Homo sapiens: one gene and its partners. The protein of the gene in region 1 purifies or fractionates together with the protein of each later gene. This does not show direct contact. Each region holds a gene or a part of one and is shown in the gene's direction. Other genes may lie near its edges. The genes, in order: B3GALNT1, SELENBP1, LORICRIN and CST1.

Region 1 (7,000 bases):
TCCTTGAATCTCTGAGACATTAAGGAACTAAAAGAAAGCTAGAGTAGGTTATCGGTTTCCCACCCCATGTATTTCTGACTCTGAACACAGGTAGGTAGGTAGGATCTCATTGTCTGTTGCTTCTCTTTCTGTGTCTGTTATCTGGAACTATATTTAGCTATTTTGTTTCCAGAGTTTGTTTTCAAGAATGGAGTTACCACTTTCTATGCAAAAGCAGAATGGAGTAGCTGAGACAGACCCTAGGGCCCTCAAAGAAGATATTTACTATCTGCCTTTTATGGGGAAAAAAGTTTGCCCGCTTCTGGGATAGAACATGGATTTCTGCTAAACTCAAGCTGTGCATTTTGAATAGTCTCATAAAAGTTAGAATACACAAGTCCTCCTGTTAAAACATTTCACAAGCCTGCAGCCACCTATTCCTGCAGCATGTCATAGGGCTCAAACCATATCTCATATCTGGAATTGTATTTGGCTGCTATTTTGGTTACAGACTTTGTCGTTGAGAATGGAGTTACGCACTTTCTAAGATAAAAAATTACCGTCCAGTTTTATCTCTTAGTATTAAATAGTTCCCTTCTCCATACTGATAACAGGCTCTAAATTTATGCCTCTATTGGGCACTAACACATTCTGAGAGTGCAAACTCAGTTCCCTGCTGTGGATTTTGGTCACTAGTTTAGAAACATTTGAGCTGGAAAGCCTCCCCCATGTTCTCTAGGTGGGCCTCACTCATGATGTTTGGTGTGAAATGTGTCGTTGTGAGTCTTCCACCACGCTCTGCATTGAGTGTCGGCAACTTGAGGACAGGGCTTGTCTGTCTGCTTCCCCACTGCTGCCCCAACCTCTAACACAGGTCCAGAACACTGAATGAAGGAATGAAATACCCTCAGATGACTAAAGCAAAGGTAATTGATGGCTTAACTAAGAAGAATAGTAAAGAGCTGTAATATTCTCAATTTAGGGTAGTAATGGGAAGAAATGTTAACTGCAGCAGCTCCCCGATACTCTTCCTCCAGTGGATAAAGCTCTTTGTAACAAAACAGACACAGAAAGCCCAGCTTTCAGGGCAGTCTTGCTGCTGTTCTGCCTGACTTTGTGATCTTTGCTCTGCTCCAGTTTTCTTAGCTCCCTGGACCCGGTTGACCTGTTGGCTCTTCCCGCTGGCTGCTCTATCACGTGGTGCTCTCCGACTACTCACCCCGAGTGTAAAGGTGTGTCTGCTTCTGCTGCATTCTTTGCTCCCTGCCCAGGAATCTCAGGAGGCTGTGAGATTAGATGTGAGGTTGGTCTCTCCTGGGGCACTGTGCCCTGGCAGAAGGAGCTTGGCATTTGGAGTTGAAGGGCTTGAGTTTGGATTCCATGTCTTCCTCTACCTGGGCTGCACTGTTCCCTGGAAAATGGGATTGATGTTAACACAGATTTTACAGTGTCATGAAATGTGCTTTGTAATTTGTAGTTAGAAGCACTATAAACTTGTATAGTGCCCAGAAGTTCACTATGCCTTTAAAAAAAAAAACAGCCCTGCTAAAAATCCTAACATGTATTGCAAATTATTAAGAGTGATTTTTATGTTCTTATTGGAATATGCAGATAGGGCAGAAGCAAAAAGAAAATTGCGGCTAAATTTTCCTTCTAAAGTCCTGCTGCTTTTGTTTGCTCCTCATTTTTCTCAGCCCAAACCCAGAAATCCCTAAAAGATTCTGCATGCCACAACCCAGAAGTCTATCAGAGATTCCCATATACAGGGATTGTTTTGCCTACAAGAAAGTAGTTTGTATAACAGTATATATAATATGTCTTACTTACATGTGTCTTTAAAAACTCAGATGTCTTATACCTCAGCACACTGAATGAAGCAGCAGGCTTCCCTTTTAATGAAGCTTTAATGAAAGACATTCTCCCATACATCTTAGAAGATACCTGAGGGTGGTGGTGCTACAACCAGCAGAGTTTCAAGGGCAGAATTGGGAAATGGTAATGAGTATAGGTATTTATACTCACTGTCTACCTAAAACTGTGTGACAACTACAGAGAGTGGTGCTCGAGGTGGGCTTTTTTCTTAAACTCAGTAAATACTTCAAATTCATTCTTAAAAATTGAACAATTTAAAATATGCCAAAATGAAACCTTTTCTATGAACTACATTTTAAACATCAATAACAAAGTTGTGGAACCTTGTAGTTAGAAGGGACCTTCGACGTTTGTTAGAATAACACTATCTTTGGTTTCTCATTTGCCTTCTGGAGTGATACTTACATATTTTATTATTCAAAATAATTTGAAAGTATCTACCATGGCACTTCTAAGCTTTTCTTGTCTCCAGAACAGAACATCCCCAGATCCTTCAGCCACATGTCATGCAATCCTTATGGGAGATGATAAACCCTTCACCAAATGAGTTACCCTCTTCTAACTTGTTAGTGACCCTTTCAAAATGGAACTCATATGGGGCTATGGAATTATGACCCCCTTTGCCCAGATGCTTTTCCAGTTTCTTGAACCTAGGAGTGTATTAGGGGTGTGTGTGTGTGTGTGTGTGTTAGAGAAGGGGGACACAATCTAGTATTCACTTGTAGAGTTTCTGTTAGCACTGCCATTCATTCACAAGTACTTGGGAGTGCTTCCTATGTGCCAGGCACTATGCTAGGTGCTGGGGACACAGTGTGCAAGAATGAACATCATCCCTCTGCTGGTAGGGCCAGATGGTGCCTGAGAGGTATCCTAGCCCAATGTCCTAAAATTCTGTTGAGAAATAACTCCTCAAATTCAATGACTTGGCCTCCCTGCCAGAACTAGAATCCTTGTTTCCTGACTGCCCAGTTATTCCTTTACTTCACCACCTTTTATCATATTGGACTCATACTCAGCTAAACTGTAAGGTCTGTTTAGGCTGCTGTTAAAATGGCCCCCCATCCTGCCCTTGTGCAGCTGGTTTTTCGAACTCTGACATAGGACAATAAATGTGTTCCCATCAAATTTCATCTTGCTGTCTTTAGCTTTTTCTCACCTGTTAAAACCTTTTGGATTGTAATTACATCTTTTAATGAATTTGTCATTTTTTTTCCTGCCTACAAAATTGAATAAGCCCACGTTCTTTAATTAGAAATATGAAATGAGAAAAGGCTAAAGATAGGCCTGTGATTTTTTTCCCCAGTTTGACAAAGATGCTCCAGTCAACCTTAGAACATCAGCAGGAGGACAAGTCTCTGGCACTTTTGTGGAACACTATTCCCAGAGTCCAGCACAAGCCCAAGAAATGTTTCTTGAACAAATGACTGCATGAAAAATACACTGGCTATGATGGATCAGCCAATTTTTAAGCCATCTAGCTACTATTATTACTCACATTTTCCCATTTTGTTCAGAAGGACTTTAAGTGTCCAGCTCTCTTTACAGAGAAGCTTGATTCTTAGGTGTTACCTGCGAGTTACCTTGATCTTCTATTGAAGAACCCTATTGAAAATGGGGCTTAGGATAGTCAAACAGAGCATTCTCAGTGAATCTCTTCTAGCTCCTGATGGTCATTGTGTTTGTGTCATAAGTGTTCACTAATGTTTACAGAGTCTCAGCAACTTATTCAGGGTTATTTGGAATACAGATGCATTAACATTAGTCCCTTCAGGAATTTCTCCATTGCCAAAAAGTGAACTTGTTGGAGAGGACTTGTTGAAAACTGGGTGAGCATGATTTGCATGGAAATTGGACTAAACTTCCCTTTCTTTAAAGTTCCTGGTTTAGCCACTCGAATAGCTGGCATTACAGGCATGCACCAGTATGCCTGGCTAATTTTTGTGTTTTTAGTAGAGATGAGGTTTCACCATGTTGCCAGGCTGCTCTTGAACTCCTGACCTCAAGCAGTCTGCCAGCCTTGGCCTCCCAAAGTGCTGGGATTACAGGCATGAGCCACCATGCCCGGCCAAAAGTTTCTCGTTGAGCTCTGACAACTCTTCACCTCTGAAGAAGAACAGAGGTGCTGCACTGTGAAAGTATGAAGATACCAGGCCAATAGGATAAAACAAGGCAGGAGGGAAGCTTTTGTAGTGCAGTGGCTACAGACTCCACTTGGGGTGGTGAATATACCTGAGTTTTTAGTGCTGCTTTGCAGGCTCTGACACCCTGACTCCTGAACAGGTGTCCAAATTTCAAGCTGGTTAACTGAAAGATAAATGTTATAATATTGGTGCCTACTTCATAAGATTGCGGCAGTCATCAAACGAATGGAAATATAAAACATACTTACTACAGTGCCAGGACCAAGCAAGGACTATTGCTAAAATTTTGGAGAGAGGGGAGTATGAAGAAATTGGATAGAGTAGAAAGCAGGTTCTTTTTAATGTGAGCCTATTTACCCTGACAGAGTAAAGCATATTTCATTTTTAAGTGTTATCAAATTAAGCAGATATACCAATTGCTATTCATTCATTCAGTAAATAAAATTTCACTTCCTATTATATGTCCAGCTGTATGCTCCAAAGTAAGGAGAAAAATGTAAACCATATCAAATATGCACAATCCTCAAAGTAGCCTGACACCACTTGAATATCACACGCACTACAGCTGGAAAAATTTCTTGTATTTTGCAGCTCTCCTCCAGCTGCTACAAGTGCCTATGGTGAGACTTTTGACAGTGTGAGTGGTTCCCAGAAAAAATGATGTTCAGTTGTAGAAAGACCATGGGGCAGAAAGAAGGATCCCAGGAGAGGGGAGCACATGTGCAGAGGCGGAACCCAGAAATGTGCGTTTGGCTTTGTGGACCTCTACCAGTAGTTCTTTGGGGCTCGTATTTGCAGGATAGCAGAACATCAGGCACTGGGAGATTCTAGGAAAACAGAAACCTTGGACTCTAGGAGAAGACTTACTGATTTGGAAGGAGAAGGTGGATCCACTAAGATTTATTTGCATGTTTAATTGTATTACAGAGCATGTCATGCCATGTAAGACACATTTGGGAGTTAGGAGCAAGGTTTGTAAAGGAAATGTAGACAAATAATATATGTAGAGGAAGCATATAGTGTGGACTCTAATAATAACAGCAATACCATCTACTTAGCCCTTACTGTGTGCCAGCCCCATCCTAGATGTTTAGCGCGTATTATTTCATGTAGCTCTGGCAATAAACCCGCAAAGAAGGTATTATTGCTCCCATTTTACAGATAAGGTAACTGAAGCTTAAAAAGGTTGAGTAATTTGCTCAAGTGGATTTCATTGCTTCTCAAACTTCAGTATGTCCACAAGCCACCTGTTAAAAATGTTTCTGATTCACTAGGTCTAGGGTGGGGCCTGGGGCTTTGTATTCCTAATACACTCCTAGGTGGTGCCCATGCACTTTGAGTGGTGAGGGTCTAGGCATCACATTCAAATCACCTGGGAGCTTTAAAAATACTGCCACCTGGTGCTCGCTTTGGCAGCACGTATACTAAAATTACTGCCACCTGAGCCCTGCCACCCTCTGAAACTCTGATTTAGTTGGCCTGGGATCCCGCTTGGCTTCCAGTATTTTTCAAGTTCTCCAGGAGATTATAATGTGCCGCAAAGTGAGAACCACTGGGTTAAAGAAGAGGGGAAGAAAAAGTAGTGGTCAGATGGCACTGGTTGTGTTTATTTCTAATATAATCAGGGGAGGGCCTCAAACACAAAGCAGCAGTGAGTTGTGAAAATAATTAGATGTTTAATTGACAAGTCTAATTGAATGGTAGAGTTTTATATTGCTTTATGAGTTAATGTGTTTAGTTTGAAAGGGTAGTGGGGGAATTTCCCTCAAAGATGTGAATTGATAGTTATTTTCCCTTTATAAGGAATATACATGATTGGTGTAATGATGATTTGAATTAAACTTAATATGCACAGGACCTTTTTTTAGGCAATTAAGATTTCCACTCCCTTTGCAGTATTTTATGTAGAAGAAAAGTTAGAATGTTGCAAAACTGACAGTAGTTTGGTAATTATCTATAATAGTTAGCATATGGATGATCCTGACTCTAGCGTGCTTGGACCTAAAATTTAACTGAAATTTGTTTCTTGTTTTTTTGGACCTTTTAAAATGCACATGATCAGAATCAGCATAGCCTATTACAATAAGGTTTTGTTATTAGAAGACAGCTGAAGAAAAACATAATCAACAAATTCAGGTTACTTTTGGATTCAGCTTATTCTTAGGAATATTTACTAAGTGGATAAAAGTACATTACCAAATCATTTGCAAAGTATGCAAATATTACAGAGAGCCTACTATGTGTTAGACACTGGACATATAGCAGTGAATAAGTGGGGTCAGGTTTTCCCTCTCTCCAATCTTATATTCTTTTGAAGGGAATAGACAATAAACAAATAGAAATAGATTTTTAAAAGTCTAGACAGGGTTAAATGCTGAGAAGGTGTTAGGTTTAAGTCCCAGCTGAGGTCCAACAAGGTGTTAGGTTTGAGTCCCAGTTGAGGTCCGAGGGGAGTGGGTGGATGGGCGAATTGCTGAAAGAACACTCGGGGGGCTTTAGGCAGGTGAAATGTAGTTTTATTCAGCAGCTTTTTAATCAGCAGCTTCCTCACACTAACTGTTTCTCACAGTTTCTTTATCTTGGCTGTTTGCTTCAGCTTTGTGGCTCCTCTTATGAGCCTGCTCCTGCTGCCCCCAGCCTTGCAGCTGCACTCCCTGGCCTATACTACCAGGGTTAGCAGCTTAATTTTTTCCCTCTGGGCATAAGTCCCCACTTCCCGCCTTCAAGGCAATCCACTCTTCCTTACAGGGGTCAGTAGCATTACTCTCTCTGGGCATTAGTGCACCTCCAAGCCATGTCAAGCCAACCCAAACCCCATGGGCAGCATCAGCAGGGCAGTTATACCTTTTACAAACAATAGCAACTCAAAGCCAAGTATAAACTTACAAAGACAGGTTATCTAACAAGTGAAGTATGCACCTGTGCCCTAAACTTGCTAAGTCACTTTGGCCCAGATATTCGCCTTAGCCTATTCCTTAACCAAAGCACATTCATATACTTTATGGAAG
Region 2 (7,983 bases), on another chromosome or scaffold:
CCAATTCAGAATTCCTATTTTAAAGAGATATATTCTGAAACATTAAAGCAATGTTTCAAAAAAATTCAGGGTGGAGGGAGGCTACAGGCTAGGAGGCATAACTGAAACAAAATGGCTTATAATTTTTTTTTTTTTTTTTTTAGATGGAGCCTCCTCTGTCGCCCAGGCTGGAGTGCAGTGGCATGATCACAGCTTGCTGCAGCTTCCACCTCCCAGGCTCAAGTGATCCTCCTCCTTAGCCTCCCGAGTAGCTGGGACTGCAGGTGCACACCACCACACCTGGCTCATTTTTGTAATTTTTGTAGAGAAAGTGTTTCACTATGTTGCCCAGGCTGGTCTTGAACTCCTGAGCTCAAGGGATCCACCTGCCTCAGCCTCCCAAAGTGCTAGAATTACAAGTGTGAGCCACCTCACTGTTTATTCTTCCTTCTCTTTAAGCAATAGAGGTAAGGAGTCAAGACGATAACATTTGCTTTTTAAACACCTTCTGTCCCCAACCTTAGCATCTCCCTGGATATGATAGGCCCCCAGCCACTCTTCAGTGCTGCCCACTGGGACACAGGCTTCTGATAAAACTGAGTGGCGCTGCAGTACTAGGAGCTTAAAGGGTTACCACTCCAGAGACATTCACTGTAGCCAGGAGGTGAGAAGAGGCCATCTGGTAGTAACACAAAGAAATAAACTGCTATTGGTGAAGTTTCAAGCATCAATGGCAGGCCAAAGGGAGGATATTTCTGAGTGGATTGGCAGTGAGGAGAAAGTCCTCCAAGTGGTTCTCAAATCATGCTTTTTATAGACAGCCCTGGCAGAGGGCATTAAAAAAAATTATTTCAGCCGGGCGCGGTGGCTCACGCCTGTAATCCCAGCACTTTGGGAGGCCGAGGCAGGCAGATCACGAGGTCAGGAGATAGAGACCATCCTGGCTAACACGGTGAAACCCCGTCTCTACTAAAAATATGAAAAATTAGCCAGGCGTGGTGGCAGGCACCTGTAGTCCCAGCTACTCGAGAGGCTGAGGCATGAGGATGGCGTGAACCTAGGACATGGAACATGCAGTGAGCCAAGACCTTGCCACTGCACTCCAGCCTGGGTGACAGAGTGACGTTCCGTCTCAAAAAAAAAAATTATTTCTCTTCTCTGAGCCATGTTATTACCCTGAGCAGCAGGCTTTGAACTCACTGTCATTCAGAAACAGTGCATTAAGTGTGGGCAACGGAGTGAATTGGGAAAACTCTGTTTCCTGAATGTAAGATGAAGAAAAAGGCATTTACAGGCCAGACACGGTGGCTCACACCTGTAATCCCAGCACTTTGGGAGGCCAATGCGGGTAGATCACAAGGTCAGGAGTTTGAGACCAGCCTGGCCATATGGTGAAACCCCATCTCTATTAAAAAGTACAAAAATTAGCTGGGCGTGGTAGCATGCGCCTGTAGTCCCAGCTACTCAGGAGGCTGAGGCAGGAGAATCACTGGAACCTGGGAGGCGGAGGTTGCAGTGAACAGAGATCACGCCACTGCACTCCAGCCTGGCGACAGAGGGAGACTCTGTCTCAAAAAAAAAAAAAGAAAAGAAAGAAAAAGAAAAAGGCATTTAACCTCTCCAGCTGTGCCATGGGCGGAACCTGAGCTAATTGTTAGTGTGTAGGGCCCGGCATGGCGCCCGTCACCTCTAGTAGCAGGTTCTCAGTAAACGCTACTCCCTTCACATCTCCTACACATCCCTGAGGGTATGGAGTTGGTCTGTTAATATAAGGAGAAATGAGCAGAACAGGGCTCTGAAACTCTACTTAGCTGGTGAAAACTCCAACCTCTCCAGCCAGTCCTGCCTCAGACCTCCATGGGCTGCTACCTTTATGCCTTACAGGCATTTTGTGCACGTTTGTGCTTTTTGGTTTGTTTGTTTTAGTTCTTTTGTACTGTTTGTTTGCATATAATTCTGTACCCATACATACCAAGCAACCCCACCTAATGCTGCATCACCCCTACATTACCCTACTCCTTCACAGCACTTATCTGAAGTGATTTTATTTATTTGTGTATTTGCATGATTATCAGTCATCTCCCCTAAAAAGTCATCTCCATGAAGGTAGCAACTTTGCCCTGTTCACCACTTTGTCTACCATATCTGGCTCAAAAGAGGTGCTCCAGAGGGAAGGATAGGCAGCTGGTTGGGAGAGCTGTAGCTCAAAAGGGACCGGGGCCAGTCCTTCTCCCCAGCATGGGCCCTCACTGTGGCCCTCACCTGCACTGCATGTGACCTTCCATCCTTCCTTTCATCTTCCTTATAGTTTTTCTTTTAATATATTTATTTGAGCTTTTAGTTACAAAAGCAGTACTTATTATTTTTTTAAAAATCCAAAATTAACTTTGGGAGACCAAGGCAGATCACTTGAGCCCAAGAGTCTGAGACCAGTCTGGGCAACATAGTGAGACCCCCCATCTCTACAAAAAAAATTTAAAAATTATCCAGGTCAGCCAGGCACGGTGTCTCAGGCCTGTAATCCCAGCACTTTGGGAGGCGGAGGTGGGTGGATCACTTGAGGTCAGGAGTTCGAGACCAGCCTGTCCAACATGGTGAAACCCCGTCTCTACTAAAAATACAAAAATGAGCCAGGTATGGTTGTGGGCACCTGTAGTCCCAGCTACTCGGGAGGCTGAGGCAGGAGAATCGCCCCTCTACCTTTACTGCCTCCCTCTGTAGCCCAGATTAGGATAACTTCCCCAACCACCTGCTGGCTGTAGAGCAAGAGTTCAGGGAGAAAACCACAGGCAGAGGTGAGGGGTGCCATGGAGTTGCTGCAGAGACCAGCCAGGTCAGAGCTCAGGAGCATGAAAGAGGTAGTCAATGACAGACCACAACAAACAAAATAACAGCCTTTTTTTTTTTAAGTTAATGACTCAATAATTTTTTATGAGAAGGTGGGGATAAAGTTTCTTTCTCTTTCAGATCTTGGGTGGTGGACTAACCCAAGCCAAGAAGCCGGAGAATAGAGAGGAGGCAGGAGATGGAGACCTCAGGAGGAGGAAGAGGGGAGGGCCAGAGGGAAGGGTGAAGGCAGGGTGAGTGGAGGTAGTCAGGACAGGAGGAAGCTGGCAAAGACAAGGAAGCAGCCTTCAGGGCCTTCCCCGTGGGGCAGCTGCACACACAAGACTCTCTTTGATGCCTGGCAGGCTGATGGCACAATGGTGAGGATAATAGATGCAGGATGGAGCCAAGAGGGGTTGAGTGGCGCTGGGGATAAGAGAAGACCCTTGCCCCGGGCAGCCACAGGGAGTCTTCCTTGATGGGCACATGATCCCTCACTGATGGGAGCCAGGAAGACAGATACCCAATGCACCAAGGCCCAATTTTGCTCCCCTTCCCCCACTCTGGTTTGGAAACCCTGTATTCTACTTGCAATCTCAAGCCCAGACTTTATTCTTTTTCCTAGCCAATAAAAACTTCACCCCAGAGCTTTTATCCAAAGAGTATGAATATCTGGAATAAGAGGGCAATCTTAGGGAAGAAGTGACCCTGGCTGATGGGCCCACAGTCCCGGGTGCCCCTAAATGCTAAGAGACAGGTCCAAATACAAAGACGAGCATTTGGAGACACAGGAACACATACGTGCGCAGGCTTACACAAGCACATGCACAGCCACATAGCCACACACTACACATACACAAGCACTTATGCACATGTCCACACAGGCGTAGATACTCTAGCAAGCACATACTCACAGAGGCGCGCACACACACACACACACACACACAGGCGTAGATACTCTGGTAGGCACATACAGAGGCGCGCACACACACACACGCACAAATACACACAAGCACACTCACAGGCACATTCACACACGTGGAAATTCACACACAGGCACAGATACACACTCATGCAGGCACGTGCACGAGCAACACGCAGGTATACAGGAACACACACATGCCCAGACACACAAATCCACACACACCCAGGCACCCACTAAAGAGCACGAGCTGGTCAGGGGCAGCGGCTCACACCTGTGATCCCAGCACTTTGGGAGGCCGACACGGGTGGATCACCTGAGGTCAGGAGTTTGAGACCAGCCTGGCCAACATGGTGAAATCCCTTCTCTACTAAAAATACAAAATTGCTGGGCATGGTGGTGGGTGCCTGTAATCCCAGCTACTCGGGAGGATGAGGCAGGAGAATCACTTGAACCCAGGAGGCAGAGGTTGCAGTGAGCCGAGATCGCACCACTGCACTCCAGCCTGGGCAAGAGTGAGACCCTGTCTCTAAATAAATAAATAAATAAATAAAGCACAGGCTCCCACACATACACACTTAAACACATACACGCACACCCCATAATTCAAACACCAGTTGCCCTAGGCCACTTGAGAGTATCCTGGCCAGCTGCCCTGAGTAGTTTACTCTGGGCTACAGCCCGGGCCCTCCTCCTTCTCTGCCCCACCCCCAGCTGGTTGTATAAATTCCCTCCCTTCGCTCCTTCCCCGGAACAGCGGCCTCTGACACCAGCACAGCAAACCCGCCGGGATCAAAGTGTACCAGTCGGCAGCATGGGTAAGGAGAGGGGTTTCCAATCACCCATTGCCTGCTCTGTCTGCCCCTAATTTGGAAGGCCCTCCTCCAGAAAATGCTAGAAAACCTGAGTGGGGAGCTGGGGAGGGAGTAGTGGACTCTGCTTCATTGTCCCCAGTCTGCACACCCCCTCCCCCACCACCCCACTGCATTTCCCAGCTCAGCCAAACTTTCTGAGGAAGACGGGCAGAGGCACTGCTGGGAGATGGGATCCTGGGCCCTGACTTGGCTCCATCCAGCAGAGGCTGGGACCAGGGTGCCTTTCTGCAGCTGGGAAAATCAGATGGGCGCTCTTAGAAAACACCACTAGGTCCCTGGCCCTCACATAGTAGAGAGGTGATCCTGATTTCAGCCATGGGCCAACTTTGTACTCCAGCGAGGTAGGGAGTCCAAAGCCTTTCTGTGCCCAGGTCACTCTCTAGCTACTCCACACAGCAAAGCTCTCTGGGAGGGAAATCAGAGACCCCCACACTCTTTCACTGGGGACCTGTTTCAATGCCTCCCCCACCCCTAAATCCCCCTTGGCCCTGCTATTCCTCCATCTGTAGGCTTCTGGGTGACAGGCTAAGAAGGAACTGAGGTTTGGTTGGGAGGTCCTTCCCCGCTCGGGGCTGGCTCTTGAGCTGGCAGAATGCCGAGCTGGCAGAATGCCCAGCAGCCAGCCTGACATGGAAAACCCACTTGAGCTTTCCATGAGTCCATCCCAAACCCAAAGCTGCTCCGAGACCTTGCTTGAGATGTTTCAGATGGGGGTATTCCCCAGAAAGAGGAATGATGCTCCCTGGGGCTGCAGTGGCATGCCAGGCCTGACCCTAAGAAATGCTGGGGCTGGGGTTGCTGGGGTGTGGGGTGGGCCGAGGCTGCAGAGCGGGCAGCTCCATCTCTGCACTTTTACTTCCCTCTCAGCTTCTCCCTAGCTTTGTATTTTTTGTATCTCTGTCTTGAGGTCTTGGAGTTTTAAAATCTCCTTTCCCTTCTGTATCCAGCAACCTCCTTCCCCACCCCCTGTCATCTGGTGCCAAGCCCCGACTTAGCAAGATTGTGTAACAGAACCAGTCTCCTTAACTCCTGTGAACTGGACCTCTCTCTCTCTCCCTGCCCCACCTCCAGCCCTCTCGCTGGGCATCGAGCACTCCCTGGCATTCTCCTCTCCTCTGGCACAGCCCTTCCCATATTTACACAGTAATTCATTATTTTTTTTTTTTTTTAGTCAGAATTTCACTCTTGTTGCCCAGGCTGGAGTGACTGCAGTGGCGTGATTTCGGCTTACTGCAGCCTCCACCTCCCAGGTTCAAGTGATTCTCCTGCCTCAGCCTCCCAAGTAGCTGGGATTACAGGTGTATGCCTGTATTTTTTAATACAGGCTAATTTTTAATACAGGGTAATTTTTGTATTTTTAATAGAGACAGGGTTTTGCCATGTTAGTGAGGCTGGTCTCAAACTCCTGACCTTAGGTGATCTTTCCGCCTCAGCCTCCCAAAGTGCTGGGATTACAGGCATGAGCCACCGCACCCGGCCTAATTCATTTTTATGAAAGGCCTTTGGAATACATTGTCTTATTTGTCCTCCATATCTACCTAGCAAAGTAGGTAGAATATCATTATTGCCCACTTTTCGTAAATGAAGAGGAGAAAATGGAGAAACGGGGCGTCAAAACTGGGACTTGAAACCAGGTTTCCAGACTCTGAACGCTGTTGCTGCCTCTCAGCTTCCTAAGTCTCTTGGCTGCTGCGAGTGGGAGTCCCAGGCCCCAGTGGAGGCCCCACTCTGCCTACTCCTGGCTCCCCACTTGCGGCCCAGCTGTGAAGGCAGAGGCTGGACTGGCCACAGGACAAGGCAGGAGACAGGGCCCAGGCCTGTGGACTCCACTCCAGGGTTTCTTTCAGCCTGCCACCCCCTCTGGGTATTCTTTAACCCCTGCTCCCCAGCAGGCCCCAAACTCTGATGCTGGGGTGCTGGTAGCTGTGATGTCCCAGCCCTACTGCACATCTGCTGACTTACATCCTGGAGATTAGCATGGCCCCTCTTGCCAGACTTCAGAGATAGGGAGGGTTGCTCCCTATCTCTCTGGTGGGCAGGCCTCTGGGCTCTCCAGAGTTGGGCCAAACACCTTACTTTACAGATAAAGGAAGTGGGGCACACCCAGGGGTAGAAACCAGCCTGAGGACTTCCAGTTGGTATTAGCCCCAGACCCTCGGTTATGTAATCCAGCCCTTGGCTAGCAGCCTGGGATCAGGACCCAGGGGAGAGAAAAGCAGGAAGTGGCCTCCCCCTGATATAGAAGCATCTTGGTGAAGGGAGCTGAGCAGGCGCCACCCCACTCCCTGAGAGCAGCTCCTCAAGAACAGCCAAGGGTGCCTGGGCTTCGACCAGACAAACACAGAGCTGCACACCTACTGCACCCTCGTGTTTACTTCTCGTAAAAGCCCACTGTGAAATTCTTACCATCTCCATTTTACAGAGGATGCAGAAATTGAGGTCGAGGAGCTTCAGTACTTTGCCCAAGCTCCCCTGGCTAGTCAGTGGTGGGCTGGGGTTGGGCCCCGAGTCCGTGTCATATTCACTACACCACACGACCCCGGCTGCATCAGCCCTCCTCCCACCCTCCCGGGGCCCTGCTGGACTGTCTGTCCACCTTCAGGTCATGTGTCTCCAGCTCTTCCCAGCACAACCTCACCCTCCTCAGGGCTCTGAGGGGGCGGAGAGGACAGGCCAGAGCGATGAGGCTGGAGTGGGGACCTAGGCCAGCCGCACTGCCGTGGCCCGCTGGGATGTGTGCTGCAGAACGTGCGGAGGGAGCCTTCACCCTCCAGAGCGTGGCCCAGCCAATGCGCCCCATTGCTTCCACAGCTACGAAATGTGGGAATTGTGGACCCGGCTACTCCACCCCTCTGGAGGCCATGAAAGGTAATTGCCCATGGTCTGAGAGCCAGCGCCCTACTACTGATTCCACAGCTGGGGGTGGAGGGACTTCAGACCTAGCCCCCACCCTCTGGCACACCCAGCACTTCCCCTACCTTTCCTTCCCACCCTGCCGTCCCTGCTGCCTGCTTTCTACCGTGCAGGACCCAGGGAAGAGATCGTCTACCTGCCCTGCATTTACCGAAACACAGGCACTGAGGCCCCAGATTATCTGGCCACTGTGGATGTTGACCCCAAGTCTCCCCAGTATTGCCAGGTTAGGCGGGGCTTGGGCGCCAGCTACTTTGAGACCATAGCTGCCCTCATCCCTGGCCCTGGGCCCCCCCTTCCCAGCTCCATCCTTCTTGGCCCTCCCTGGGGATGCTTGTGCACGCTCAACCTGGGACAAGGGGAGTGCTGAAATCCAGCCTGTGCCGTGCTTCCAAACCAAAATGAGTCCACAGGGCGCCTCTTCCAAAAGTGGACAGAGGCGTGGCCTGGGGGAGCACCACCTCTCCC
Region 3 (8,913 bases), on another chromosome or scaffold:
CATCCTGAACTGAAGATAACATTACTGGGCACACAAAACTGTTAGGAGGATTGAACCTATGTGACAGTGGTCCATAAACTGAAGAGTCTGTCCACAGAGGAAGTGTCCAAGCCCAGGCAAGCATGATCCCTGGATGCACTGCTAACCCTGTGTGCATCTATAAGCTGTTTGAAAAGGTCTGAACAACTCATCTGTGGTCCCCACCCTCAGCAAAATGATGGGCTCCAGGAGCACCCAAAAGAGGACCAAGTAAGAGTCAACACTGCCTGATAACACCCCAGGGGGCTATAAGTGCTCTTTAAATCCTAAGATGCAGAGTTAAGAACTAATAGGGAGCCTTCCTTCAAGGACAATTATAACTTGAAAAAAGAAACAAGTCAAAGCGATGTGTCATTAGCAGACCGTAACTAGTACAATTGTTCCTTAAGGCCTTGGAAAGGGAAAGTGGTGAGGGAGATGGAACCAGTGGGTGTGATGAATCCAGGGAAGCTTCCTGGAGAGGGAACACCAGTAGCCACGAACCACTGCAGAGCTCTCCTTCTCCTACCCACCTCTAAGCAGTTCTCCCCATGTAACACCGAGGATCAGCCACCCCTTCAAACTGTTGGCCCAGAAGGGCAGTAGAAAGGAGGAAAATGGCAGCCCAGGAGGTACCTGGAGTTCTGTGACACTTCCTGGGCCAGGACTGTGAGAGAAAACTGTTCCCATTCCAAGTCAACAGTACAAAGGGCTTCCAAGCACTACTCCTGTCCTGCCAAAGCTCCCAAGCCCCTGTCCTGTGTTCATTTTATTCTTTACAGCCACCTGCTGCCCCTTTAACCTGTTAGATAAGTAGTCAGCACTCAGTCATGAGAACCCATGTGTGTAGCTCTGGATACTTCAAGGTTGTGATGAGCATGCTTCCATCCAACTGGGGCTCACCAAGCTCAAGAAATGAAATCTCAGACTGGGGCCCAGGAGCCAGGTGCCTCTACTCAGAGAAGCAGCCTTCTCAGAGTAGTTTGCAGCTGCTCTTTCCTAAATCCCCCCAACATAGCTTGTTAAGATGGCCAAGCTGTGCATCACAATGCGGGAGGCCCTCACACTGTCTCCTCTACCTGCTTCTCTCTTGCTCTGAAGATGCCTGTAGCAGGAAGATGTGAGCTTCCCACAAAGATAAGCTAAGCTGAGATGCAGAAAGAACAAATCTCCAACTTTTTTGTGATTTATGAATCAGAAGCTGGGTTGTCTCCAAAGGATGCATCTGTGATTGTGGATAAGCCCCAATGTGTCCTTAACACCCTAGACTGCCACATCTTTCTGAAGAATCACCACCCTTCACACACACACACACACACACACACACACACACACACACACTTCCTATACGGGGCCTTCCCATCAGATAGATATTGTGAGGGTGGTCAGGGAAGCAGGCTAAAATTCCACTAGCCCAGTGTTAGCCCAGTGTCACTTCTATAGCTGGCCTTGGATCCCCTGCACAAGGCTTGTTCATTCTGCACAGTGGCTAGGTTTAATCTGTAGTTCCATGCTGAAACCCTCCACTCCTCATCATCTGACAAGATCATCTCTCAACCGCAGTCAGTCAATAGGTCTCAAGAGTTCCTTCAATTCCACTGGGATTTACTGAGCACCTATTAATGCCCAGCACCATGCCAGGCACTGTGTAGCATCTGCTTTAAGGACCATCCCCTCTAAGGATACAAGTATAGGCAAGAACCATGTCCTAATCTGTCAAACTGCAGAAGTCAAATGTGCTATCAAGCACACCTTGCAGGGTTAGGTGTCTAAAGGCTATAAACCTTAAAAATCTGAACTGCCAAGTCTTACAAAACCCCAAATACCTATGTGTCATTCTACAATTCTACAAAGTCCCATTATTTCCTCACTGATATGATAAAAGGTGATAATCAGTTGCTGCCCACACAGATATCCCATTAGGACTACTGCTTCTGCTCCAGAAAGATGAAATGAGAAACCAGGTTCATATATTCGTATATCAGGCAAGGTTAACTCAGGGCTGAAAGCCACAAGATCTGGTACTCAGTATCATGTCACATCAACCTCTTCTGCATGTTAACGAAATATTTATACTAGTTACAAGTTATATATATATATATATATCTCTACAGATATATCTCTATATATATGTAACTCTATATATATATAACTTGTAACTAGTACACATATTTAGTTAACATGCAGAAGAGGCTGATGTGACATAGTTATATATACATATATGACTATATATAGTCATATATGTATATAAAACTATATATAGTCATATATGTATATAAAACTATATATAGTCATATATGTATATAAAACTATAGTCACATATGTATATAAAACTATATACAGTTATGTATGTATGTAAAACTATATACAGTTATGTATGTATGTAAAACTATATACAGTTATGTATGTATGTAAAACTATATACAGTTATGTATGTATGTAAAACTATATACAGTTATGTATGTATGTAAAACTATATACAGTTATGTATGTATGTAAAACTATATACAGTTATGTATGTATGTAAAACTATATACAGTTATGTATGTATGTAAAACTATATATAGTTAAATATGTATATCCTTTCTTATTAAATGCTATATAGGGTGGCAGAGGCAGGCATGGGGCACCATCCCCACCCGCGACTCTACCAAAAAGACCCATGCATAGCTTTGGAAAGCCTTCTGGCTCTTTGATGCTTAACATGGTGCCCAGTACATTTGTTTTGGCTGGATTAACAAATAAAGAATTAGCATCTTAAAATTAATAGAAAAAAAAACCCTATATTTCTTAGAAGAAAATGAACCCCCCAAAGCCAACATGGACAATTTGAAGATTAGTCATTTTGGGTCAACTGTACTTTAGGTTCCCGTTTTGTTTATTTTTTGAGACAGGGTCTCACTCTGTCACCCAGGCTGGAGGGCAATGGTGCAATCTTGGCGCACTGCAGCCTTGACCTCCCAGGCAGAAGCGATCCTCCCATCACAGCCTCCTGAGTAGCTGGGACTACGGGCACATGCCACCATGCCCAATTAATTTTGTTTATTTTTTTGTAGAGATGAGGTCTCACTATGTTACCCAGGCTGGTCTCAAACTCTTGGGCCCAAGCGATTCTCCCACCTCAGCCTCCAGAGTAGATGGCACTACAGGCGCATGGCACCACACCTCGTTAATTTTTGTATTTTTTGTAGAGACAGGGTCTTGCCATGTTGTGCAGGCTGGTCTCAAACTCCTGGGCTCAAGCAATCCTCTCACCTTGGCCTCCCAAAGTGCTAGAATTACAGGCATGAGCCACTGTGCCCGGCCTAGTTCCCAAATTTTAGAATTCCATGGAGAAGTAATATCTCCCTCAGAAAAAAGTGGTAATCATTACACCATAGCCAAATTTTCATTTTGACATGGCAGGACATAAAAGAAACAACTACAGCCTCATGTCACCACATCTTTTAAAGGAAGAGGTAGGAAGGCCATGATTTCAGAATTGAAGACTTTCTTTCCCAAGAATACCCTGCTGACGTCCTTTTACTTACACTTTTGCTAAGGACTGGTGAACACATAGCAATGGGCCAACAAGGGACCACACATATCAGTACTGGGAACCGTCGTCCACACGTGCTCCTCTTTCCAATGTGGCCCAGCTAAATAAAACTGTTCTTTCTTATACCCACAGCAATCACTAATCGCGGCCTGTTTCCCTCCAAATTCTCCACACTGCCTCAACTTCAAGCAGAGAAACTTGCCTTCTCCAACAGATCCTGTCTTCTCCCTACTGGGTCTCCTCTAAGGAGGAGAGCACCTGAGTTCCTCTTGGGTTCACCTGGGTTTATGCTGTCCAAACTGAAACTAGTGCCACAAGTTTCTGATGGCCACAGTCTAATCAGGATCATCTGGATCATTAAAAGTGCACTATAATTAAGAATTTATTATTGGAGCTGTCATTTCAAAACATAACTGGGCAGAACAAAGTTTGACTGTGGTATCTTAAACAATACCAATTGACTTCCGGTTATGAAAGAAGCAGCATCCTGTTCTGCATGCGCAGAGGTGATGCTACTGGTCCAGAGTCAACAAGAAAGTTTTGAGTTATTCTCCTAGGAGAAGAATTGGACTTGCCCAATCCCTCCATGGACTCCTTTCTGGCCTTGGTATCCAAGGGAAGGCCAGGTTGGAAGTAAGGATGTGCTGTTATATGAGAAAACAACAAAAAAGACAGCATCACCTTCTACACTTAACATAACTATTCTCCCTTCACATGCCTGTGAAATAGGTACTACTATTTTTATTTGATAGACAAGGTAACTGAGGGTCAAAAAGCTTGATCATTCCACAGTCAATAAGTACTTACTGAGTGCCTCCCATGTGCAGGTACTGCACTAAGAGCTATGACTCTGCCCAAGGTGACACAGCTGGCAAGTAGCAAAGGGAGCACCCAATCTGTCACCTAATCTCAAGTCTATCCCATTCAATGACTGCCCCTCAGGCTAAGGTCAGTGTTTTGCCACACAACACCACAGGACAACAGAGCCAAAGAGCCTTTGTGGGATCACATGGTCCATCTCTTTAGTTTGCTCTGCTGCAAGGAAAGTCAGTATTGATTACCCTTCTCAGACTGTCTCAAATGCCTGCTGTCTCTGGGGATGAATCAAAGTAGCTTCCCACGTCACATTAGTTACAGCACTGTCTATGGTGTGCAGTCCAGAGCTGGGTGCTGGGGACTCATGCCTCCAGTGGGCAGGACAGAAACACCCCAGCAAAACACACATGAAATCCTGGGAGATAAACTTTTGCAAAGGAGTAACGGGTTCTAAAGTTTTGAGGATTTTTAGAGTAGCAGGACCAGAAGTCAAACAGTAGGATTTAGAAGGTCCTACTCCTTGGATAAAGCACTGAGATCTTCAGTTTGACTCTCTTAGGGCACCTCAAGACTCTGGGACCTATTCCTCAAGCACAGCCCTGTGGTCACCTGGTATGCATCCTGTGCCAGAGGTTTTGGAAACAATGTCTGCCATCCACTCTGACTGGGTGACCCCACTGATGAGCCTGCCACACTGTTGCATCAGAGAAGGGGCCAGTCACACACCAGGCTGCCCATCTCAAGAATGCCAAAACCTTCATGAATGGGCCATCCTGTGCCTGCAATCACAGGGAGGTGGGGCCGACAGCCACGGGTCACGTAACTGAGGCCAAACACAAGAAGCTGGCCTGGATCAATGAGTCAGGGAGAGCTCTATATATAACCTCAGGAGATCAGTGCTCCTCACATTGCCAGCATCTTCTCTCCTCACTCACCCTTCCTGGTGCTTTGGGTAAGTGTGGTTCTACTGACTCTCTCATTTTCCCAGCTGGTCTTGCCCAGGCCTGACTAGATTAGATGGACCAGGGCCTCTTTCCCCTTTGGGAGCTATAGGACCTCTGCCTTCCCAAAAGCACTCACATTTAGAGGGCGGTCAGGAAAGGAGCAGGGGATGAGCTGCTGCCATGCAGATGGTGTTTCTGGTCTTCTGGCCAGAATGTAAACTCCACAAAGACAAGACTATCTCCTGCCTCTCTGGCACCCGCATAGGGGCAGGCATGGTGCCGGGCACAGAAGGACTCTGCAGAGGCTGTCCAAGGCAGCCTGTGCACAGGCTGAGCAGACCTTGTGAACCTGTCAGGAGGAGAGGCTGAGCCACTCTCAAGAGAGTAGGGAGAATGATCCAAAAAAGTTGCAGATGGGAGGGATTTCAGGTGCCACAGAAATCCAATTGCTGTTTTACAGAGTTAGAAGTTCTGAGAGGGAAATACAACTTCCTACTAGTCAAAGTCCCTTCTACCAAACTTGGACTTGAGAAAATCATGGAAGAGATGGCTAATAGCTTCTGGTCGGGGATGTTGGTCCAAAGGACCACCAGGGTCCTTCCCCTGTTTCCAGGCAGGGCCACAGCAGAGCCTGTCTTTTCTAGTGACTAGCCCTTGGTTCATGGCCTAGCTCAGTGGGACAGACCAAGAGTTTGAACTAAGAGCTTCTGCAGAGGATGGAGTGCAACAGCCCTCAATAGAATGAAGTCCGACAAACCTCTCTCTGTTGTGCTGGGAATGGGTAAAATCTCCTATCCTAGGTAGAGGTTTGTGGTAGTTTTCTATTTGCACTCAGAGAATCAGTGTTGAGATTGGAAGAGGCCTGAAAGATGAAGTGTTCAAACCCTTTCATTTAACAGGAAATGAGAAAGAGGCGGGCGTGTGGGTGATCTGCCCTCAAATCACACAACAGTGGTCAGAGGCAGAGCTGGGAGAAAGAATGGGCACTGCTAACTGGGCTGTTTAAAGCATAATGAAGGCTTTCTGCAGGGGAATGAGGAACTCAACTTTTCCAAAAGCAGCAATCATAAGAAACCCCGCTGAGGGCTCTCCGGGCACCTGAAGGAGCCCTGGGAGGATGGCGATGTTGCCTATGGATGCAGCTGCCTCCGTAAGTATCCTCTTGCAGCTGGTCCAGCGATGCTCTCTTCTCCCCTTCCAGGCTCTCCTTCCTTCTCAGACAAGATGTCTTATCAGAAAAAGCAGCCCACCCCTCAGCCCCCAGTGGACTGCGTGAAGACCTCTGGCGGCGGTGGCGGTGGCGGCGGCAGCGGCGGTGGTGGCTGCGGCTTCTTCGGCGGCGGCGGCTCAGGGGGCGGTAGCAGCGGTTCTGGCTGCGGCTACTCCGGCGGCGGTGGCTACTCTGGCGGCGGCTGCGGCGGGGGCTCCTCCGGCGGCGGGGGCGGGGGCGGCATTGGAGGCTGCGGAGGGGGCTCCGGTGGGAGCGTCAAGTACTCCGGAGGCGGCGGCTCCTCCGGCGGGGGCTCTGGCTGTTTCTCCAGCGGTGGGGGCGGCTCCGGCTGCTTCTCCTCCGGTGGCGGCGGCTCCTCCGGGGGCGGCTCCGGCTGCTTCTCCAGCGGTGGGGGCGGCTCCTCCGGGGGCGGCTCCGGCTGCTTCTCCTCCGGCGGCGGCGGCTTCTCGGGCCAGGCGGTCCAGTGCCAGAGCTACGGAGGCGTCTCTAGCGGCGGCTCCTCCGGGGGCGGCTCCGGCTGCTTCTCCAGCGGCGGGGGCGGCGGCTCTGTCTGCGGCTACTCTGGCGGCGGCTCTGGCTGCGGCGGAGGCTCCTCTGGCGGCAGCGGCTCCGGCTACGTCTCCTCGCAGCAGGTCACTCAGACCTCGTGCGCGCCCCAGCCGAGTTACGGAGGGGGGTCGTCCGGCGGCGGCGGCAGCGGCGGAAGCGGCTGCTTCTCCAGCGGCGGGGGCGGCGGGAGCTCCGGCTGCGGCGGCGGCTCCTCCGGGATTGGCAGCGGCTGCATCATCAGTGGCGGGGGCTCCGTCTGCGGAGGTGGTTCCTCTGGAGGCGGCGGCGGCGGCTCCTCCGTGGGTGGCTCCGGGAGTGGCAAGGGCGTCCCGATCTGCCACCAGACCCAGCAGAAGCAGGCGCCTACCTGGCCGTCCAAATAGATCCCCCAGGGTACCACGGAGGCGAAGGAGTTGGAGGTGTTTTCCAGGGGCACCGATGGGCTTAGAGCTCTCATGATGCTACCCGAGGTTTGCAAATCCTTCATGTCTTAACCTACCTGGAAGAAGCCATTGAGCTCTCCGGCTGCATCTAGTTCTGCTGTTTAGCCTCTTTGGTTTCTGTACAACTACCTCCCAACCCCAGTGCCTCAGTCAATAAATTTGCAAATTCATGAGAATTTTTAGGTCTCCAAGAGTATTTGTAGTGTTCAAGTTCATCCATTCCATTCCATTCTTCTCCTTTCCTGCATTCGCTCATTCACACTTACATTCATTTTACAAATGCACGGACTCTATTGGCGGAAAGGTGAGTGGATAGATGGGAGTCACCAGGAGAGGGAGGAATGGCTGGCAAACGAAGGTCAAACATATGAACATTCTAGTGTACGGCTTAAAATCATGACGTGATCCCAAAACACAAAGATCCTGAGGAGAGACTTCAGTAAACACCTCCCTGTGGATTGAGTAGCTACTGTGGGTCTCCTTACTGAACTCTGTTTTTTAAAGACAGGCTGCCCTGGAAAGACGCTGTCTCTCACAGTCCAAAGCCAATTCTGCAAGGTCTGAAAGCTGGGTGGCTGCACATTAGGAGCACCAGCTCATGCTACTCAGACTCACGGAGAAATAAAAAGCATATCAGATGTTTACGGGCCCCTAGGGTGAGCAAGACCACTTTAGTAGGTACCCGTAGGGAGAGGAGGTAGTAGGGGAGCTGTTTCCTGCTCTCTCACTCTCTCTCTCGTTTTTTTTTTTTTAATTTCAATCAGCTTTCTCGGGTTGAATGTTTCCTGCTCTCTTGAAGGAACTTTACCTAACTTAGGAAGATGCAGCATACATATACGAGATGTAAAAGCTTGGCACCAGAAAGAGGTCATGGAAAACACAAGAGCTTCCAATTAACAAGGAAGAAGCGACAGTTGCTCCAAGGGATGTATTAATTGCAGAGCCCTCAAAAGAGATGTAGAACATCAGCCTGGCCAGGGACTTTCCAGGTTCTGTTTCATATCCTGATTTTACCAGCTCTAGTTAAATGCCAATTTACTGATTTACTCAAGAAAAACTCCTGCTACGTCAAAAAGCCAAAGTACCCTTCCTACTCAATCACTGCTGGGGGGAAAAAAAGTCTTCCTCCTCAACTCTTCCATTTAGGATCACTACCATGCATCATTTTACATCGGTAATTCATGGAGATCAGAATAAATAGCAGTCTTAAAGATCCAGGAGCCCAACCACTGCATTACTTTCATGTTTTTTAACAAATGAAAGTCAGACTTTCAGTTCTGGACAAAATGAAGTAGATGTATTTCTTACTATCGCTCTTATGAAGTAGAACTAAAATCTCTGGGCATAATATATAAAACAAACATAAGAAGACTT
Region 4 (8,344 bases), on another chromosome or scaffold:
AGTCTTGTCACTGGATCCAGCTCTTCTGTGACAGGAGGAAAGGGCAGGCAGGGCCACAGGAGGGAGCAGGGCTGTCCTGATGGCCTCTGGCTCCAGCTCCAACACTCAGTGATTGAGTTGAACAGGATTCCAAGCAGGAAGAGGAACCAATCTCCACAGTCACTGCATTTTGCTAAAGGAATTGATATTTAAGGTTACACAAACAGTGACAGGGAAGTCCCAGCAGTGACCCAAACAGGATAAGAAAGTCTGACCACCCAGAGATGTCAAGGAGATGACTCACCTCCTCAGAGTCATCTGTTTTCCTCATGGCCAGGCCTCTGCAGGCTGTAGCCCAGGGAGTCAGATGGATCCCTGGCTGCAGCAGCCAGCAGCCCGAGTTCCGGAGGCCGCCCCTACTCCCCTCCATTCATATGTGGTTCTTCAGTCAGTGAATCTGCACTGACAAATGCTCTTTTTGATTTTTGAAAAATAAATGTTAACTTGTACTCCAGAGCCAGGAATACCATTCATGTGCTGGTCCCTGAGAGAAAGGATTCTCTTTCTCCCCACGGAGTGCAAAACAATCAGACCTGACACTGGGCTCTGCCCTCTCTTGCCTTTCCCAGCCGGGGCTGCCAGCAGGCTTCCCCATGAGTATCAGTTTCCTAATGATGTGGAAAAGCCAAATGTGGTACCAACATGGGCCCATAGTTTAGAAGCATCCACATGTCCTAACAGAGCCAAATGTGTTACCAACATGGGCCCATAATTTAGAAGCATCCACGTGTCCACGATGTGTGAGGAGAGGGAGAAAAGAAGGAAGGATGGAGTGTGAAAGAGATGAGCTTGACCCCAGAGAATTCCAGGCACTCCATAAAGGAGGCTCCTGGGCTTCCCATTTGAGAAGCCACCAAATCCTGTGGCTGTTCAGTCCCAGCTCCTACCATAGACCAAACTGTTAGTTGCTCAAAACCCAGTTGTGCAGAATCTCAACTCTTGGCCAGCTTGTCCTCACCACTTGCACTTTTACATGATGCTTTCTGCGCTTGGTCATTTATTATGGTATTGTTTAGTGTTCACTTATTATTGGTCATTTATTGCAGAGAACTTCTGCCACTCACCTAATTTCTCATCCTACTAATTCAGATAATCAGATCAGTTCACCTGTGCAGCCTAGGGGAACACAGCTTTCTCTTTTGTCACCTAGCAGAAGGAAAACATGCCCCCTCCTGGGCAGCTGGACTCCTCTAGGTTACATGGGTGCTGGAGGCCCCAAGCTTGTTCCTCAGTCCATGGTTGCTATCTGGCCCTCTTCTAGTGTGTCCTTAAAACTGTGGACTATAGAAATCAGGGAACAAAGTGTTCTGCCATTTTTTTTAGATGGGTGTTTCACTGTGTTGCACAGGCTGAAACTGAACTTCTAGACTCAAGGAATCTTCCTGACTCACTCTCCTAATAAGCTAGGATTACAGGTGCAGTACCACACCTGGCTACTCCATCATTTTTAACCATGTTGATACATCACTGCTGAAGTCTGCTCATCTCTGCTGGTCTTAACTCCCAGATACTATGCTTTAGAAAGTAGCCTCTTTCTCCAGATGCATGACAGACACACCATTTGCCTAAGGTCATCAAACATCTGGAGCAGCTGGCCAGCTACCTCAACCTGCTACTTCCTATCACTCCATACTGGACATCGCACTTGTACCTCCTCCTAAGAGCAATGTACACTGGTATTTTTCCTACTGGGATTAGAGAGCTTGCTGCATCAGAACAGCTGACCCTCCCTGCAGTGCATGCCAGTGCCCAGACAGAAGATGACCACTGGTGGTGTCATCACATACAGGGCACAGGTCAGCACTCTGGCCTCCCTCCCTCATACTCCACCCACCAGCACATTCTCGCTATTTGGGTTACCTGCATCTCCTTTCCAATGATTAAAACAAAACAAAACAAACAAACAAAAACAAACAAAAAAACAAGAGGATTGCTTGACCTTCAGTTTACCCTCTGCACAGCATGTCTTCCTGAGCCTGGACTCCCAGCTGTCCCAGGAAGGTGGGAGCCACAGAGGAGAACTAACTCCTACCCTTTGGAGATGACCATTCTGCTCCCAAACACCTGGTAAGGGACTTCCTTCTCTTTCCCTTCTTTGGAAATCTCTCCCCATTTCCTGTCTAACTAGGAGGCATATGTGCAGCTTTGTTTGAAGACCTTCCCTCCTTCACCCAGCAGTAAACACCTTCGGTACACCTGCTGTATCTGCCGGGCTGCACGGCTATTCTAGGGGTGCTGGATTCACAGTGGGGTGAGATGGTCACCAGGCCTCAGGTAACAAGGTTCCCTGTACTAATACTGAACATGAGCACCCATGAGTAATATGGTTCCCAATGCCGGGTTCCTGCTGATCCAGCCCCAGCCATGTCCCAGCCCAGGATGACTCTTGGCCAGCTTGTCCTCATCACTTGCACCTTTATGTGATGGTTTCTGCACTTGGTCATTTGTTTATTATAGTATTGTTTAGTGTTCTAAACAGGTCTGGGCTGACACTGGCCAACGCTCACCTCCACCACTCCTGGGAGAGTCCTCTGGGTGTCCTGCTAAGGTCCAGGGTTTCCTGTAGCTTCTGGCCAAGCCTGCCACCTCCCCATAAGGGCATTTGCCACAGGGTCACCTTCAGGCATGGAGGGTGGGGTTGAGAGAACAAAGGGAGCAGCTGTCTGTTCAGAGCCTCCTTCCACCCTCTCCTCTCCTGGAGTCACATTCCAGCCCAGGCCCACAGCATCCCGAGCTGGGGGCTTTGTCAGCCCATAGGACACCCAACTGACCAAATCCTCTCAGTCTGCGGAGAAGGAGAACTCACAATCCTGGCAATGAAGCAACTCGGGGGCCGCCGGAAAGCCACACTGGGCAAAGGACAAAGACACACATGGGCTCGCTCTGCAGGACTCCATTCCTGGGAAGCTCAAGGACAGGCGACCAAGGAGTCTATGGGGCCGGATGGGGACTGCCAAGGTGGGGTGGGCACGAGGGTGGCTGGAAAGGCAGGAAGATACTGTCTGGGGCAAGGCAGATGTCACAGGTCTGGATAAAGTGGTAACACAAGTGTATGCATTTATGAAACACCCCAGATTGAGCACATACTATTAGGCATTTTATTGTATGCAAATTCTACCTCATTTAAGGCAATTTTTAAAATATCAGGTGAGTCTTCCAAGCAGTGAACAGAGGAAAGGAGCCTGAAGCATGGCTGCCTAGGACAGAAGCAAGAGAGACCTGTGGGTTCCCACATTCATCCCGTGGCTGCTGCTCCCTTTCCTGACACCCCCACTGCCTCACAGGGGTCTCCGTGCACCTTCCACCGGGCCCCACCCACATTTACTGTGAGACTCCAGGTCGTTCCCTTCCCTCCTCATACCCCCTCCAGGAGCTTCCACTTTCTGGAGCAGGCATGTCCCAACCCCACCTCAGGGCCTTTGCACTGGCTGTTCCCCACTGCCTGGGGCTTCTCAACCTCTCCAGTCTCATAGAGACCACCCTGACCAGGGTCCAGTGGTCTCTCTCTAGCCCCTGTTCTATTTCACTTCCAAAAGAGTGAGCATAACTCCCTGACCCTAATTTTTGATCGTAACCTACCATCCCCTACACACATTGTGTAGGAATGGACTATGGAGTTCCATAGAACCAGCCACATGTGCCACAGGATACTTGAAATGGGGCCAGTCCAAAATTACTTCTGGTCTAAGTGTTAAAAATACACAGGGAATTTCAAAGATTTACAAAACCAAAAAAAAAAAAAACAAAAAAAAAAAAAACATAAACGATCTCATTAATAATTGTTCCCATTAGCTGAAATCACATTGTGGCTATATAAGGTTAAATAAATATTTTAAACATTACTTTCACCCATTTATTCTCATCTTTTAAAATGCATCTACTAGAAATTTTCAATTGCTCGTGAGTTCGTGTCACATGTCTGTTGGGCAGCAGCTCTGCAATGTCACCTCTATGGCTCATCATCCAGGTTCCGTCTTCAAGCCCTAGACCTCCTGGCACGGGGAGTAGCTGGTGATAGGTTTGCTTATTGAATAATGAATTATGAAAAGAGAATCCAGTGACCTTTTCCAAAAAGGTTAATTCCCTTAAATTTGGCAAAGAAATTCTCCACATTAGGGTATGGACAGGGTCTTCTGGAACTTTCTGAAATAATCTCCCTGTTCCAGAGATTCAGAGACTGTGACCAAGTGCTCCTGGATGCCCCTGATATCTGAAGACCCTGGGAGGCCAAGCCCTGTATTTTTCCCCTTTCTGAGCAAACAGGAAGTCACATAGCTTTCACAGTCAAAGGACCAGTGTCACCTCTGTGGAGACCTGGGTGACTCAAGCTTGGGAGCACTGGGGAAGAGAGGCATGGCTCGGGGAGGCTGCAGTGAGGACTGGAGTGGGGAGGAGGGGGAGATGGAGGAGGAGGCCTGGGAGGGGCAGGGGGAACTTAGGCAGGGAGGGAGCTTGTAGTAGCGGGGGAGTGAAAAGAGAGATGGAGAAAGAGGGGATGGGAAGAAAGAGGAGGAGGAGTCAGGGGTGGGGCATGGAGGTGGGTGGGGCTGGGCTGCCAAAGCAGGATAAATGCACACCTGCCTGCTGGTCTGGGCTCCCTGCCTCGGGCTCTCACCCTCCTCTCCTGCAGCTCCAGCTTTGTGCTCTGCCTCTGAGGAGACCATGGCCCAGTATCTGAGTACCCTGCTGCTCCTGCTGGCCACCCTAGCTGTGGCCCTGGCCTGGAGCCCCAAGGAGGAGGATAGGATAATCCCGGGTGGCATCTATAACGCAGACCTCAATGATGAGTGGGTACAGCGTGCCCTTCACTTCGCCATCAGCGAGTATAACAAGGCCACCAAAGATGACTACTACAGACGTCCGCTGCGGGTACTAAGAGCCAGGCAACAGGTAGGTGCTCCCTCCACCCCAGGGGTCCTGGGTCCCAGCCTGGTTTGTTCCCCAACCCCCAAGAGCATTCCCAGCAAATCAACACTGATACATTCATGATCTAATGCTCAGATTCATTCAGCTTTCCCTGGCTCTCCGCTGATGCCCTTCATGCCTAAGCACGCTCCCCGGCCGTGCACAAACTCAGCTTCCTTTAACCTGCAGCAGCCACTGTGTCTGTACCATGACTGTGGCATTTCCCAGGGTCCAGCAGGTGTGGATGGAGACTGTGCTTACTCTGGGTGGGCTTGATGCTGCTCAGGATGAGATCCAGGCCATGAGGTTCATACTCCTCCCTGAGTCCTCTCTGCAGGGGCCACACAGGAACCTGGCTCACTGTTCTGCAGAGCCCTGCTTCCCCAAGTCACGCCCCTGGGCACAGCCCCTTATGGCTAGCGGCCTTCACCCTCAGGCCGGCTGACAAACCCCTACAGCCCAGGGCGCTGAGTCCCTGCTGGGGTGGAGCATGCCTGACCCTGCCTCTACCAGCTGATGCAGTTAGACCTCAGCCAGATGAGGACAGTGGTCACCCAGCAGAGCAGAGGAGGGGTCAGGTCGGGAGGGAGCTTCAGCAGGGCAACTGGGCCCAGCTTGACCTGCATCCCATGGCACAGCAGCAAATAGTGACACAGTCTTTAGAGCTCCTCCACCTTCTCCTGGAAATTCAAAGGAATCCCCACCAGCCCCGTTTCTCCTCTTGCAGCTGTCAGCTGGGGCTCTCTCCCTGCATACGAGATACACTCCCTGGTGCCGTGGTCCCCGCTGGCCTGCATCTCCCTTTCAAGCATGACAGTAACTTGGAGTGAAGCACAGGGCATTGCAGACCATCAGGCCCAGAAGCCTATTTTAGACATGGGTAAACTGACACTCGAGGGATCTCAGCAGTTCCTCCTGGTTCCAGAGAGTCCCTCATCCCAGGTTTCTCCACAGCTCTGCCACATTGTGTCTGGGAAAGGCCCTATGCAGGGAAAGGGTTCAATTCTAATCTGCAACTGTAAGACACGCAGGTGTGCTGCTGACTTGAGAAATGTATCTTGAATCTCACACTTGAAATGGTGGCATCCGGGCGGCCCCATTGATCCAAAATATCTGTGTGTGTGAAGCATCTCATTTCCTACTCTGAGTGAAGTAATAAATCTATGTTAAATGGAGGGAATAAGATTTTCAGAAGTTAGGTGAAATTTTGTCATCAGACAGACTTCCTAGAAAAGAGTCAGTGTTCCCTCGCCCCTGAGCCACAGACAGCAGAATTCAATGAATCCTTTTACCCAGCACAGAGAAAGCAATGTTTAAGAGCGGGTATGAGGCTCAGCACCCTGCCAGTTGACAGGAAGAGGGGGCTTGTGTGCCTTGTGTTGACATGTGGGCAGCTCACGAAGCCCCCAAGCAAGTCCAGTGACTCAGCCACAGTGAAGTGCCTGTGAGTGCATGAACTGATGGGGGCGCTGTCCTGTTTTCTCCTGTGTGCAGACCGTTGGGGGGGTGAATTACTTCTTCGACGTAGAGGTGGGCCGCACCATATGTACCAAGTCCCAGCCCAACTTGGACACCTGTGCCTTCCATGAACAGCCAGAACTGCAGAAGGTACGTTCCTGATGCAGGTCCCGGGCCAGTCATGCACTGCAGAGGGGTGCGTATGTGTCAGCCTCTGCCCTACACATGTTTGGAGGGTGTGTGTGTGCAGGTGGGTATGTGGGGAGCCGTGTATGCATGGATGTGTACGTGTTCATGTACTTATGGGGGGGTGTGCATGTAGGTGTGCATGTGGAAAGGTGCACGTGTGTACACACCTGTGCCAGTGTGTGCAGGGAGGTGGATGGGAGCATGTGTGCCTGTGCATGGATGTGTGGGGGGTGTATGGGGCTTTGTACATAGATCCATGGGGATGAGGGGTCCAAGTGAGTTTACGTAGTTGTCCATGTATGTGCAGATGGGGTGGTGAGGGAGGAGGGTGATGTGTTTGATTTGCTAGGAAGGCTTTAGGTTGGGAATGGTTACTATAAGGTCAATTCTGCCTGCTTTGGAGTGTTGCCTGTTGGACAGGAAGAAGCAGCTGTGCGGCTGTGTGCTGGGCAGGGAGAAGGGGCTCTGTCTAATCCCAGCCTCAGGCACCTGCATGCAGCCACAGCCACAGTGATCAGATTAGTGGGACCTAGAGGCCTGTTAGCTGGGAAGCCCTGGACCTGCCCGGCTCACCCAACACCAGCCTCTCCAAGGACCTGCTGGTTCTTGTGAGGTCTCCACTCAGGGGAGAGCCACACTCCCCTTGTTGCCCTTGCCCCATGCCCCAGCTCTTTGAGGGGGAGTTGCCCTGCCCTGGGTTCTTCCCTCTGGCCCCTCTTAGTGCTGGCCTGGGTGCTGGAGGTGGAAGGAGCTGGGGGAACTGAGCTGCCTCCCCATGCCCTGCACCCTTGGGGCTCCCGAGGCCTTGCCCAGGCTACTCCTCACAGGGCTGTGCTGGGACAGGACACTGCAGGCTGGGGTGGGGTCCCAATGCCACCTGGTGACTTGGAGCCTTGGGAGGGGCAATGGAACAGTCACTATTCATTCTAGTTCAGCACTCTGGGACTCAGTAGGGGTGGGTGAGGGCCCAGTGTCTCACCTCCATCCTCCTCACCCAGGCTCTGACATCTCATGCCTGGGCATCTTCCCCTTTAACTGTAACCCACACTGATTGGCCCTCTCTCTTCCCTTTCACAGAAACAGTTGTGCTCTTTCGAGATCTACGAAGTTCCCTGGGAGAACAGAAGGTCCCTGGTGAAATCCAGGTGTCAAGAATCCTAGGGATCTGTGCCAGGCCATTCGCACCAGCCACCACCCACTCCCACCCCCTGTAGTGCTCCCACCCCTGGACTGGTGGCCCCCACCCTGCGGGAGGCCTCCCCATGTGCCTGCGCCAAGAGACAGACAGAGAAGGCTGCAGGAGTCCTTTGTTGCTCAGCAGGGCGCTCTGCCCTCCCTCCTTCCTTCTTGCTTCTAATAGCCCTGGTACATGGTACACACCCCCCCACCTCCTGCAATTAAACAGTAGCATCGCCTCCCTCTGAGTTCTTGGCTGTCTGGGGATGTGCACGCAGGCGGGGTTTCTGCAGTTCCTTTATGAAGCCTCCTTGTCCTGCTGGTGTGGAGATCACAGGAGTACCTGGGAGCTGACGCAGCCACAGCAAGGCCATCAGGGGAGCTGCTGCCACTTTCAGAGACCTGAGCTTCAGAACAGGGAGAGAGCAGCCAGGGACTGGGAACCCAGGCCTTCAGCTGCAGCAGCCCCTGGTGAGGGGGTCAGGGAGAGGAGGGGGCCCAGGCAGCTGCCCCAGAAGCTAGGCTGCTGTTTTGGTCTGAGCTGCTGGTCAGACCACGAGGAGGGGGCTGGCTGTGT

The links.
Region 2: the proteins of B3GALNT1 (region 1) and SELENBP1 purify together in Homo sapiens (affinity purification with mass spectrometry; 3 studies listed by BioGRID and IntAct, with this or other methods). This does not show direct contact.
Region 3: the proteins of B3GALNT1 (region 1) and LORICRIN purify together in Homo sapiens (affinity purification with mass spectrometry; 3 studies listed by BioGRID and IntAct, with this or other methods). This does not show direct contact.
Region 4: the proteins of B3GALNT1 (region 1) and CST1 purify together in Homo sapiens (affinity purification with mass spectrometry; 3 studies listed by BioGRID and IntAct, with this or other methods). This does not show direct contact.

The regions. Positions count from the first base shown.
Region 1 is NC_000003.12:161,095,350-161,102,349, reverse strand, and holds part of B3GALNT1 (UDP-GalNAc:beta-1,3-N-acetylgalactosaminyltransferase 1), read left to right. Parts: intron 1-718; exon of another isoform or gene 719-905; intron 906-1,116; coding exon of another isoform or gene 1,117-1,211; intron 1,212-7,000. UniProt on the Homo sapiens protein: Transfers N-acetylgalactosamine onto globotriaosylceramide. Plays a critical role in preimplantation stage embryonic development.
Region 2 is NC_000001.11:151,369,200-151,377,182, reverse strand, and holds the start of SELENBP1 (methanethiol oxidase), read left to right. Parts: upstream 1-4,477; 5' UTR 4,478-4,541; coding exon 4,542-4,545; intron 4,546-7,204; exon of another isoform or gene 7,205-7,283; coding exon of another isoform or gene 7,284-7,413; coding exon 7,414-7,470; intron 7,471-7,628; coding exon 7,629-7,741; intron 7,742-7,983. UniProt on the Homo sapiens protein: Catalyzes the oxidation of methanethiol, an organosulfur compound known to be produced in substantial amounts by gut bacteria. Selenium-binding protein which may be involved in the sensing of reactive xenobiotics in the cytoplasm.
Region 3 is NC_000001.11:153,254,410-153,263,322, forward strand, and holds LORICRIN (loricrin), read left to right. Parts: upstream 1-5,277; 5' UTR 5,278-5,324; intron 5,325-6,517; 5' UTR 6,518-6,540; coding exon 6,541-7,479; 3' UTR 7,480-7,715; downstream 7,716-8,913.
Region 4 is NC_000020.11:23,747,224-23,755,567, reverse strand, and holds CST1 (cystatin-SN precursor), read left to right. Parts: upstream 1-4,632; 5' UTR 4,633-4,701; coding exon 4,702-4,929; intron 4,930-6,438; coding exon 6,439-6,552; intron 6,553-7,668; coding exon 7,669-7,752; 3' UTR 7,753-8,006; downstream 8,007-8,344. UniProt on the Homo sapiens protein: Human saliva appears to contain several cysteine proteinase inhibitors that are immunologically related to cystatin S but that differ in their specificity due to amino acid sequence differences.